3 linked regions of the Homo sapiens genome follow. The protein of the gene in region 1 purifies or fractionates together with the protein of each later gene. This does not show direct contact. Each region holds a gene or a part of one and is shown on either strand. Other genes may lie near its edges.

Region 1 (2,922 bases):
CCTAGTGAGAGCCTTGGTGAGGTCTGCTGGAGGCACACTGGGGACACAGGCAAGCATCAGGTGGTCCCAACTTCCCACCCCCCTCCCATAAACGGCACTTGGCTCAGTCTCCCTCTGCCCACCTTGTCACCATGGAGCTGTGGCATTCAAGCATCCAAATGCCCTGCTTCTGTCAGGCCTGCCCCGTCGGGTGCTTTGTTTACTTGTCAGGTTGGGCAGATGGTCTCAAGCCCTGGTTGGTGGGTGGGTGAGTGAGGAGACAGGTTAGACAGGGGAAGGTCCCAGGACATGTCTTCCCTCTCTGGGCTGACCTGAGGCAGTGGAGGCTCTCAGGTGTGGGATGGGGTTTTCAGGCTGGGATGTTCTGTACCGTAGAGGATAGGCCTTCCTATTACTTATCGGAGCACTACGGGAGGGCAGGTCCCTCCCCAGGGTGTTTAACACTGGAGGCTGCAGGGTCAGGAGGAGAATCGTGGGGCCAGGAGGGCAGAGGCACACTCCATCTTCGTGCTCCTCACAGGCCCTGCCTCCCTGCCTGCTAAGGACACAGGGAAGGGGGTCCCCACCTCAGTGCCTGCCTCCCTTCCCTGTGCCTGTGTACCTGGCAGTCACAGCCACCTGGCGTGTCCCAGAAACCAACCGGCTGACCTCATCTCCTGCCCGGCCCCACCTCCATTGGCTTTGGCTTTTGGCGTTTGTGCTGCCCGACCCTTTCTCCTGTCCGGATGCGCAGGGCAGGGCCTGAGCCGTCGAGCTGCACCCACAGCAGGCTGCCTTTGGTGACTCACCGGGTGAACGGGGGCATTGCGAGGCATCCCCTCCCTGGGTTTGGCTCCTGCCCACGGGGCTGACAGTAGAAATCACAGGCTGTGAGACAGCTGGAGCCCAGCTCTGCTTGAACCTATTTTAGGTCTCTGATCCCCGCTTCCTCTTTAGACTCCCCTAGAGCTCAGCCAGTGCTCAACCTGAGGCTGGGGGTCTCTGAGGAAGAGTGAGTTGGAGCTGAGGGGTCTGGGGCTGTCCCCTGAGAGAGGGGCCAGAGGCAGTGTCAAGAGCCGGGCAGTCTGATTGTGGCTCACCCTCCATCACTCCCAGGGGCCCCTGGCCCAGCAGCCGCAGCTCCCAACCACAATATCCTTTGGGGTTTGGCCTACGGAGCTGGGGCGGATGACCCCCAAATAGCCCTGGCAGATTCCCCCTAGACCCGCCCGCACCATGGTCAGGCATGCCCCTCCTCATCGCTGGGCACAGCCCAGAGGGTATAAACAGTGCTGGAGGCTGGCGGGGCAGGCCAGCTGAGTCCTGAGCAGCAGCCCAGCGCAGCCACCGAGACACCATGAGAGCCCTCACACTCCTCGCCCTATTGGCCCTGGCCGCACTTTGCATCGCTGGCCAGGCAGGTGAGTGCCCCCACCTCCCCTCAGGCCGCATTGCAGTGGGGGCTGAGAGGAGGAAGCACCATGGCCCACCTCTTCTCACCCCTTTGGCTGGCAGTCCCTTTGCAGTCTAACCACCTTGTTGCAGGCTCAATCCATTTGCCCCAGCTCTGCCCTTGCAGAGGGAGAGGAGGGAAGAGCAAGCTGCCCGAGACGCAGGGGAAGGAGGATGAGGGCCCTGGGGATGAGCTGGGGTGAACCAGGCTCCCTTTCCTTTGCAGGTGCGAAGCCCAGCGGTGCAGAGTCCAGCAAAGGTGCAGGTATGAGGATGGACCTGATGGGTTCCTGGACCCTCCCCTCTCACCCTGGTCCCTCAGTCTCATTCCCCCACTCCTGCCACCTCCTGTCTGGCCATCAGGAAGGCCAGCCTGCTCCCCACCTGATCCTCCCAAACCCAGAGCCACCTGATGCCTGCCCCTCTGCTCCACAGCCTTTGTGTCCAAGCAGGAGGGCAGCGAGGTAGTGAAGAGACCCAGGCGCTACCTGTATCAATGGCTGGGGTGAGAGAAAAGGCAGAGCTGGGCCAAGGCCCTGCCTCTCCGGGATGGTCTGTGGGGGAGCTGCAGCAGGGAGTGGCCTCTCTGGGTTGTGGTGGGGGTACAGGCAGCCTGCCCTGGTGGGCACCCTGGAGCCCCATGTGTAGGGAGAGGAGGGATGGGCATTTTGCACGGGGGCTGATGCCACCACGTCGGGTGTCTCAGAGCCCCAGTCCCCTACCCGGATCCCCTGGAGCCCAGGAGGGAGGTGTGTGAGCTCAATCCGGACTGTGACGAGTTGGCTGACCACATCGGCTTTCAGGAGGCCTATCGGCGCTTCTACGGCCCGGTCTAGGGTGTCGCTCTGCTGGCCTGGCCGGCAACCCCAGTTCTGCTCCTCTCCAGGCACCCTTCTTTCCTCTTCCCCTTGCCCTTGCCCTGACCTCCCAGCCCTATGGATGTGGGGTCCCCATCATCCCAGCTGCTCCCAAATAAACTCCAGAAGAGGAATCTGTGGGCCTGTGAGTCTGTCCAGTTTATGGAGTGTGGGAGGGAGGTGTCAGGAGGATGGGGGTGAGGAGGTTTTACCTTCTTCAGTTCTAGAAAGTGCTTTCCAAAGTTTTATTTTTTTATTTGTACCTGCCTTGTTCCAGAAAACGTTGAAGGTGGCTTCCCAAAGTCTAACTAGGGATACCCCCTCTAGCCTAGGACCCTCCTCCCCACACCTCAATCCACCAAACCATCCATAATGCACCCAGATAGGCCCACCCCCAAAAGCCTGGACACCTTGAGCACACAGTTATGACCAGGACAGACTCATCTCTATAGGCAAATAGCTGCTGGCAAACTGGCATTACCTGGTTTGTGGGGATGGGGGGGCAAGTGTGTGGCCTCTCGGCCTGGTTAGCAAGAAGCATTCAGGGTAGGCCTAGGTTAGTCGTGTTAGTTCTTCCCTGTGCTGAGCAGAGACTTCCAGAAGCACCAGAAACGGAGCCAGATGAAAGGACCCC
Region 2 (4,396 bases), on another chromosome or scaffold:
CATCTCGATCCAGCCCGTGGGGAATCCAGAGGGGTAAAGAAATACCTGAAACAATGAAGACAGGAACAAAACACCAAACAAAACAAAAACAGGAAAAAAAAAACACAAGAAAAAGAGAAAAGTAGTAAATACAAAGAGAACCAAAGAGGAGAAAACACATGCTAGAAAAAAAAAAAAAAGCTTTAGTATATTCATGCCAAAACTAACAGAACATAATAGCACAAATCAAGACCCTTACTCAAATCAAGATTGCTTAAGCAAGTATAGAAACTTGAAAGGAATACAATCTGTTAAACTTAAAATGTTAAAAAATATATATAAATGTTACAAAGAAAAACATTAATTTTATAAATTCAAAACATTTTCTAATCTCTCAGAAACATCTGATGCTATTCTGTACATTTACAGATCTAGTTAAGTTTTTTATCTTAAGCAATGGTTCACTCACAGCAGCAGCAAGCACACATTTTTTTTAGTGCGTACATGATACTGGGAATACACATAGTATGGCTGGCTACTGCAACATGCTTTTGAAGAACTACAAACATTGAACACTTATTTTTCTGCAAAAGCCTTAGAATAGCTACCAAATTTTGATAAGTAAAAGGATTCACAGAATGACTGTGCCCTACTGTTATTCTTCTTCCATCTTGTAACTTACCGATAATACTTACGCATATTAGCAAACTTAAATATTTATAGCTTTGTTATCAAGGTCAGAACTTTACAGGACATGAATTAATTTAAACAGCGAACTAAATTAAGAAAATCTTGAGACATGGAATGCTGACAATTAATTTACATGCACAATTTTAGTAAAATTTTAATGGCTTCTCTTAATAGTGTGTGTCCAAATTTTGATTTGAAGGAAGCTAAGCCATGGAATAAATAACACCATAAAAATACACAAATGTATATAAGAAACATTTATCTCTTTAGTGACTATGAATTAAAAACTTATAAAAAAAGTGTTTCCATCTTAGTCCCAAATTGTAAATGAAACAATACCAAATGCTTAACCTGGCTACAAACTGTACAGTCAAGTTCCTTTCATTTTACTATTACTACTTTATTAATTCACTCCTTTACTAATATTTTTTAAATATTACAAAGAAATGACAGAGTTGTACTGAATATCATGGATAAAGCAAATCTACAAAAAGTAAACAAATCAGCACTCAAAACAATCTTTATAAAAAATATTTATTCAATCTTCAAATTAAAATTATAAAAGTTCATCATTTTAAGCTGTTTTAAGAAAGCAAAAGAAATATGTCTATATTTTCCAAATGAACTAAAGTGGTATTCCCCTCCTCCCAACTACTCAGATAAGAATGGTAACAACCCTTTTAATCTTTAAACCCAAATTAGTTTCAGGAACATTTCAAAAAATTGTTTTGGTGACAATGTCTCAACAGAAAGCCTCTCCGTTTATATTTCAAAAGTTTCAAATAGTGTCAATAAACTGACTAGTACAAAAAATATACACTGTATTTTTAAAGGCCTTTTGGATTGCGTTTAGTAGTAAGCAGGCTGCTGGTGTATCTTGGGAGAGGTCAAACGGCGCTGGGGAAGGGGAAAAGGAGCTCGCTTTCCATTCCTGTGTGCATGCAACAAGCAGCAAAACAGCAAAGTTACTCCAGTTAGCTTGTACTCAGCTGTGCTTTCTGTTAAAGGACATAATACAAATGGAAAAGGGAAAATGCATCACAGATCTAACACAGATGGTTATTGGCACAATAAGAATACAGATCAAAAAATAGAAGCTATTTACAAAAGAAAATATGCAGTACAGGCAGTGACCAAAAACCAGACTTTAAAAAATCAACTCTAATATTATTTGTTTCATGAAATAATCTTTATAATCTGGTATCTTCCACGGTAACCTGAAATTGTTTTGATGCATGTACTTAAAACCTCAAAATCAAAAGCAGAACTTCTTTATGAAAACATAACAATATAAAAATAGTTGAAATTTTAAATACAATTTTCTTCTTTTATATAGGATAACAAGAGGATATAACCACAGGACAATTCATTAGGCTGTGTTTTGACGTTTCCTGAATTCTATTCCAAATTATTCACAAAGGCATATTAAAATAATTTTATCTTACAAATTCACATATTTAAAATTTGAACATGGAAACAGACTCTAGATGACATCAAATATTCCTTATTATGATATACAAGAATGTAACATATGCTAAATATTCTAAAAATCAATCTCGTGTTTTATTATTTCCTCTTATTTCTATTAAAGTTTTAAACACAAAAGCCAAATAACTTAATGTACCCTCTTCTAGAAAGCCTTAAGAAATGTATTTTATTTAAAATTTCAGTTTGACCTAATGCAAAGACCACACTACAAGCACTAAAAAACACTAATGTTCATTTGGACTAAAACTCTCACCATTAAACCAGATAACCTTCCTCTCACTGTTGCGGAAGCAAAGTTGAATCTTAAACCTGTAAACATTTCTACCAATAGACCACTAAAGCTTCAGAATATAATGTAATGACTTCATAACCTACCTGCAAATATTATGACCAAGTAAGCCAAATACATAGCTAACAAAATGAATTCTTAAATGCTAATACAAGCACATGTGAACATTTCCACTCCATCTTATAATCCATGAAATAATCCACCTTAAGTATGGCTACCAGAATGATTTAAAACAAAGATGATTTCCAGTTTTCCCATGAAGCAGCCTACCTGCCAGCAGAAGATCCATTTAATGAATTCTGAAGACTTGGAATAGTTGAACCTAGGGAAGGATTTGAGGTTCCCTGCTGAGAACTCCCATTGACTGGGCTCCCATTACCTTTCAAAATACCAGTACACTTCCAATTGTCCATATAATTAGCTGAAAGGAAAATAATCAAATACATTAACATGATTAATACCAATGCCTAAGGGCACAAATCTGTACCCATGTCCTTAAACTACAATTAAAGAAACGAGACAGAGGCTATGAGCTACATTTCTTTCAGGATAAACATTAAAGACACTTTTTAAATGAAAGACATATTATCTCAGTTTTAACAACTTTTTAGAAGTTTTCAAAGTATCACTAATTTTAAAAATATAAAGCTTTCACCACCCATCTTACAGATACTAGCAAAGACAATTCTCTGAGCTACCACATTATGAAGTTAATATTAAAATCTTCATTATAATATTAAAGTCTTCATTATAATGAATTTCACTTACATATGTATGTAAGGTAATGAAGTTGTCTTCTTAATTATGCAAGTATAAGTTATAAGGGTACCTATCATGTCTTCTGAAATGGATGTAGGTAACAAAACCTTTGGAGCTTCAGTGGCTTATCCAAAATGGCCTTATTAGTTTGAATGAAAAATTGGTCTCTGAAGACAATGAGCCCAAGAAAATCAAGTTAGGCACCCTGCTGGGGAGCATGGCAAGGTGGTCCTGAATAAAGCCTAAAGGCAGAAAAGGACAGCAAAGCCCCTAAAATCAAATTACACTGAGGAAAGGAAGGTCTGGGCTGGTTTTACCAAAGCCCAAAATTGAACATGGGAGGCCCTCAAGCTTACCCAAACTGCACTTTGGGAAACAATAACTGCTAAATGGCAAATAAACAAAGATAGCTATAATTCTGAATGCTAAGTATGGGACACCATTCTATGGTGGTGCACAAATCACAGACATCTCTGCCTAATGGATAATCATCCAAGGAGAAGTGCAGAACCAAGCTACAGAGACCACAGTCAGTGTCAACTGACCAGACCTTCTCACTCAGCCTGGCACTTAGAAGAAACTTACAATCAGGGCCCCCAAGGCTCTTAACTTATGGGAGCTGCAGAGAAGAAGCAGGGAAGATACTGGATTTTCTCCTATTAAGGATGGATTGTCTAAAGCAATTTATTTGATAAAAAAGGAGCCACTACAGTCCTAGCCTGAGTTTGTAGAGCAGTCATGTAAGGTACATATATGACAACTGGTATCTTTTTATTGGAGATATTGCATATTCTGTTGTAATTACTTTAGTTTTGAAAACTGCTCTGTTCCACATAACTTAAAAAACAATTCAGTCATTAACTTCTATGAACTAGGTAAACTGATGTTCAAAATAACATAAATTAATATGACATTAAAAGTAACTGTAAAAGACCATTTTCAAAAAATATTTCAGAGTTTACATTTTAAGTAAAAATTGCAGAGCAGAAATATAAACCAACAATTACCCCTTCACTGAACTCTTACCTTTCCACAATCTTACACACCCATCATCTCCTGAAGATGCTAGCACCGTTCCTGTTATATTCCAACTCACTCGCCAGACCTGAGAATTATGATTATCGAACTGAGCCACTATATGGATTTCAAACTTTGTTGGCCCACCAGAGGAAGTCAGTTCTTTCCTGTTAA
Region 3 (4,396 bases), on another chromosome or scaffold:
AACAAACAGACAGATGGCAAAATGAACAGAGGTCGTTGGTTCGTTTCTCTTCTTCTCCTTTCCTCTGGGCATTGTGAGCCTGGTGCCCTGAAGAAGAAATGACCCAGCCCTATCCACACCCCAAACCATCAGCTGTCCCTTGGCCTGGTTCCCATATCTCTAGATTTAATAGCAGACAAGTGACCACACAAGGCAATGCGCCATGGTCCTTGCTTCACTTCCCGGAGAGAACAATGTCAATAGCTTTCGTTTATGTGCCAGATGCGATGCCAGAACACCGGGAATGACATTTTAGATCCCACATTCAAGTGTTTTCAGGCTAAGCGTGAGTTAGCTGTTTAAAGAACACTCACAAAAAGAGGTGATCACTTGATAGGCATCTGTTTCAAACTGTTTCTGAGTTTTGTTTTGTTTTTTTTAGGGGAGCAGGAGCGGTAGCAGCATTCACATGATTTTCAAATGCCCTCCTGGGCATAAGATCCCAAACGGTTACACATGAATCTGTATAACTTGCTTGTCCAGGGGCTTGGCTTGTGAACAGGCTTACACCAGGGCCAGCAGCCACCCCCTCTGGATGTGCTGGCCCAGGGAGAACAGGCCCACTAGTCCTGCACACTGGATATGTCTCTGACAGGGAAGGCAAGGGGTCACAACAAGGCTGGGGGCAGCAAGCAGCCTCCAGACCTTGAGGAAGTAGAAGAAAAGGCCTATGTCCCCATCCCCTAGTCATAGCCAAATGGCCCCCAGGTACCCTAACTCAGATGGCAGTGGAAACCCAAACAACAGCTCAGAAAACACCAGGCTAGACACCTCAGACTTAGCTGATAGTCCAAGACACATAAGCACCCCCAGGGCCTCCCTCAGCATGGCAGGCAGATTAGAGACAGACTTGAATTCAATGGACTCCAGACCTCCCATCTCAAGTGGGCATGGTGACTACGCCCCAACAGGAGACATTCTGACGACCGCTCTGATCAGGAGGGCTCGGACACTACTTCCTAGTGGAAGTACTAGATGTGAAAGGCCCGGACCCAGGCCAGTTCCTGGGGAGAACTGCATGTGGCCTACTTCCCACAGCCGGCCCCCAGGGACCCAGCCCACCCAGGGAGACCAGGGAACCGGCTGCTTTGAAGCTCATTCAGAAAGGAGGCCTTTGCTTCCTTGATTCCATTCCAGGAATTCTCAAACGACAAACATGAAGAAGACTTCCCTTCTTTGTCCCAGCCTCTGCAAGACACCTGAGGTTGCCTCAGTCTCTAGACACACTGATGTCTGCCAGTCCGAGGGCCTCCAGGAAACCCTGATGTCAACTCAGAGCATGGGTTCCAAGGCTCAACTCAACCTCTGGACCAAGGGATGGCTGAGGCCATTAGGGGACAGATTCCATTCAGGCCCCTAAGGGGCGGCTTGCTAACCATGCCCAGATGCAGCCCCCAACCCTTGCCCAATTCAACTCTTATATACCCTTCTCAGCTGCACCAGTCCCAGGCCCAGCAATCTGCCCAGGTCACATGGAAATGCCTCCATCCATCTCCCTGCAGGCTGTGTGGGTGACAAGCCTGTTTCTGCATCTTGCCCACTGCCCAGACAGTGAAGGTACCACCACTCCACACCACTCAGCACCTGGCCGACACCTCTCACCTGATGCCCGTGGAGTGTGTAGAGCAGCCGGCCCTCCATCAGGTCCAGGATCTTCAGGGTTGAGTCACTGGAGGCTGTGATCAGGTAGTTTCCCGACGGGTGGAAAGAGAGCCCGTTCACTGCTGCACTGTGCACTGGGGGAAGGACATCAGTCAGGTGCTGGCTAGGAGGCACAGGGAGCACAGCTGAAGCCCAAGACGGGCAATCAGGGCCAATCGAGGCTCAGCACAGGCCTGATGGGGCTGGGTCAGGATGGTCATTGCTCAGAAGAGCTGTGGGGAACCCAACAAGGATTTCCCAGGAGAGGGGCACAATCGAAGAACAGGAAAAGGCCTGTTCAGAGCCAAGGGCAGGCAGTGGAAGACAGGCGGACAGAAACAGATGCAAAAACCAGAGGCAGCAGACGATTCCTCCATCCTCTCCCACAGCACCAAGCGGTCAAGCTGGAGCAGAATAGAGTACTCAAACATACAAACATAGCCTTTGGTCTGCCCGATATACTCTTTCTTTAAAGAAACCAATGGAAAACAAAACCCTTCAAATGTCAATACAATGCCACTGCCACACAGGAAGGACGTGTGTGGGGGCAGACGAGCAGAAAGCTAAGACACTCTTAGGAAGCAGTCAGGCCTGCATTCGGACCCCAAGCCTCCTGCCTGGGCTCACCCCATGACGTTTTTTGAGAGACAGAGTCTCACTCTGTCGCCCAGACTGGAGTGCAGTGGTGCGACCTCAGCTCACTGCAGCCTCCGTCTCCTGGGTTCAAGAGATTCTCCTGCCTCAGCCTCCTGAGTAGCTGAGACTACAGGTGTGCCACTACGTCCAGCTGATTTTTGTATTTTTAGTAGAGATGGGGTTTCACCATGTTAACCAGGCTGGTCTCAAACTCCTGACCTCAGATGATCCACCTGCCTCGGCCTCTCAAGGTGCTGAGATTACAGCCGTGAGCCACCACATCCATCCTGAGCAAGCATCTTAACCACATTGAGCCTCAGTTTCTCCATCTGTACCATAGCACCTATGTGTAAGAGGTACTGTGCGGATGCTACTAAGTTAAGCACATGAGGTCTTTGCAGAGTGAGCCATCCAATGCCAACATGGATGTTCCTCTCCTTTGCCCCCTGTGTTCCATGCAACTCAAGGTCCTGCCACTTCACCCACTCAACAGCTTGGCCCTGTCCATGACTCTCTTTTCCCTACCATCTCAGGCTAACCCCACCATCTTTTCTGGTGTCCCTCACTCTCCAAGAGCCGGCCACCCCAGCTCTGTCGATTCCCCCAGCCGTAGAACTTTTTTACCCCTTGTTTCCAATGGGCCTGGGAGACTCTTGCCCTTCCCTTTCCCTGACCTTAAAGCTCATTACTGGAAGCTGCCTTCTCCAGGAAGCCTCCCCTGGCCTCCCAATTAGGGCCACCCCCTTCATTTGTCCTTCCAAAGCAGCACAAGCCTCCCATCGGTTCACTCTTCACATTCACATGCAACTATCTGACTCACATCTGGATCTCCCATGAGACCATGAACTCCATCAGGCAGGGGTGGTAAGTCCCTGGCACCGAGCAGGACTCAGAAAGTGGTTGGTGAGCAGGTGCTTAAGCTGGGTATCCAGAAGCCCCAGCAGGTTACACAACTCTCCCTCAAGGTCAAGAGCATGTTCTAGGTGAAGCTGGGGGCACACCTGGGCAGTCTACGTGGGGACAGAGCAACTCCACAGCCAATGCATGGATCAGCTGTATCACAGCCTCCTAGGGTGCCTTCTGAGGAAAACCCCAGTGTCTTTCTTCCCATTACCAGAGGCCCAATGAGGAAAACCAGTGGGGCTAAAATAACCATGACCCTGCCAAGTCAGAATTGCCACCAACATAAAGGCAGATTCAAAACCAACCGTCATCTTAGCACTGAAAGGCTGTAAGAACCACTACTGGGTTGGTAAACACACCCAACACGAAACGGCCCTCAACAAGGCCCACAGGGTGCACGCAGTCCCTCAGATGCCAGCCCAGCTGATGTGCCGATGTGCCGGGGAGTCTGGATACGTGTTCCCAGGCACACTTAGGGGGAAACAGCCAAGGCTTTACGTAACATGATATTTATATCTCAACAACACCCTCCAAGCGCCAGGATCTCCAGGAGGCAGGCTGGAGAGGGACCAGTGGGGTCTCTGAAGCCAGCTCTTGGAGGCAGAATTCAGAGACCCCCCCACCAGAAAGTCTGCACTGGGATGAAGGCCACCTCCACCCCTCCATGAGCAGAAGCTGCCAGAGGAACAGCCGGTGGCAGGAGGGTGCAGAAGGGAGGGCATGCTCAGGGAGCTCTGGGCTTCCCAGCACCATCAAGGTGGCAGGGTCAGTGTATGGATGCCACACCAGGGGCCCCCACCTGGTCAAGCCCATCCAAGGGAAAGAATCTCTCCCAGAAGAAGGGCAACAGAATCTCCACTCCACATAAATGCCAGGAATACCCAAGCCTGGATAGAAACACCTAGAACCATTTACTCCAGAAGAGGGGCTGGCCTGGCATACCAGGCTTTGGGGGATACCCCAGACACCAGGACCCACCCCACCTTTCCCCACTTGCTCTCCTGCCTCACCTACTGGCCGCACCAGCCTCCACTCTCACTCCTCTTGCCTCTGTGGAGGTGGTGGGGAGCGGGTAGTCTATGGAGGCCTCATCGTAAGAACCACCCCTGCATGAGAGTCTACCACGAAGGCTAGGCTGTCCCATGAGGGCATGAGCCTTCTATCATGATGCCTTGAG

Evidence for each region.
Region 2: the proteins of BGLAP (region 1) and SEH1L purify together in Homo sapiens (affinity purification with mass spectrometry; one large-scale study listed by BioGRID and IntAct). This does not show direct contact.
Region 3: the proteins of BGLAP (region 1) and POC1A purify together in Homo sapiens (affinity purification with mass spectrometry; one large-scale study listed by BioGRID and IntAct). This does not show direct contact.

What each region holds. Positions count from the first base shown.
Region 1 is NC_000001.11:156,240,896-156,243,817, forward strand, and holds BGLAP (osteocalcin preproprotein), read left to right. Parts: upstream 1-1,288; 5' UTR 1,289-1,336; coding exon 1,337-1,400; intron 1,401-1,657; coding exon 1,658-1,696; intron 1,697-1,866; coding exon 1,867-1,936; intron 1,937-2,137; coding exon 2,138-2,267; 3' UTR 2,268-2,422; downstream 2,423-2,922. Other genes in the region: PMF1-BGLAP protein, read left to right, coding at 1,658-1,696, 1,867-1,936, 2,138-2,188. UniProt on the Homo sapiens protein: Bone protein that constitutes 1-2% of the total bone protein, and which acts as a negative regulator of bone formation. Functions to limit bone formation without impairing bone resorption or mineralization. It binds strongly to apatite and calcium.
Region 2 is NC_000018.10:12,982,511-12,986,906, reverse strand, and holds part of SEH1L (nucleoporin SEH1), read right to left. Parts: intron 4,390-4,396; coding exon 4,232-4,389; intron 2,868-4,231; coding exon 2,717-2,867; intron 1,668-2,716; coding exon of another isoform or gene 1,655-1,667; exon of another isoform or gene 46-1,654; coding exon 1-45. UniProt on the Homo sapiens protein: Component of the Nup107-160 subcomplex of the nuclear pore complex (NPC). The Nup107-160 subcomplex is required for the assembly of a functional NPC.
Region 3 is NC_000003.12:52,136,528-52,140,923, forward strand, and holds part of POC1A (POC1 centriolar protein homolog A), read right to left. Parts: intron 1,776-4,396; coding exon 1,642-1,775; intron 1-1,641.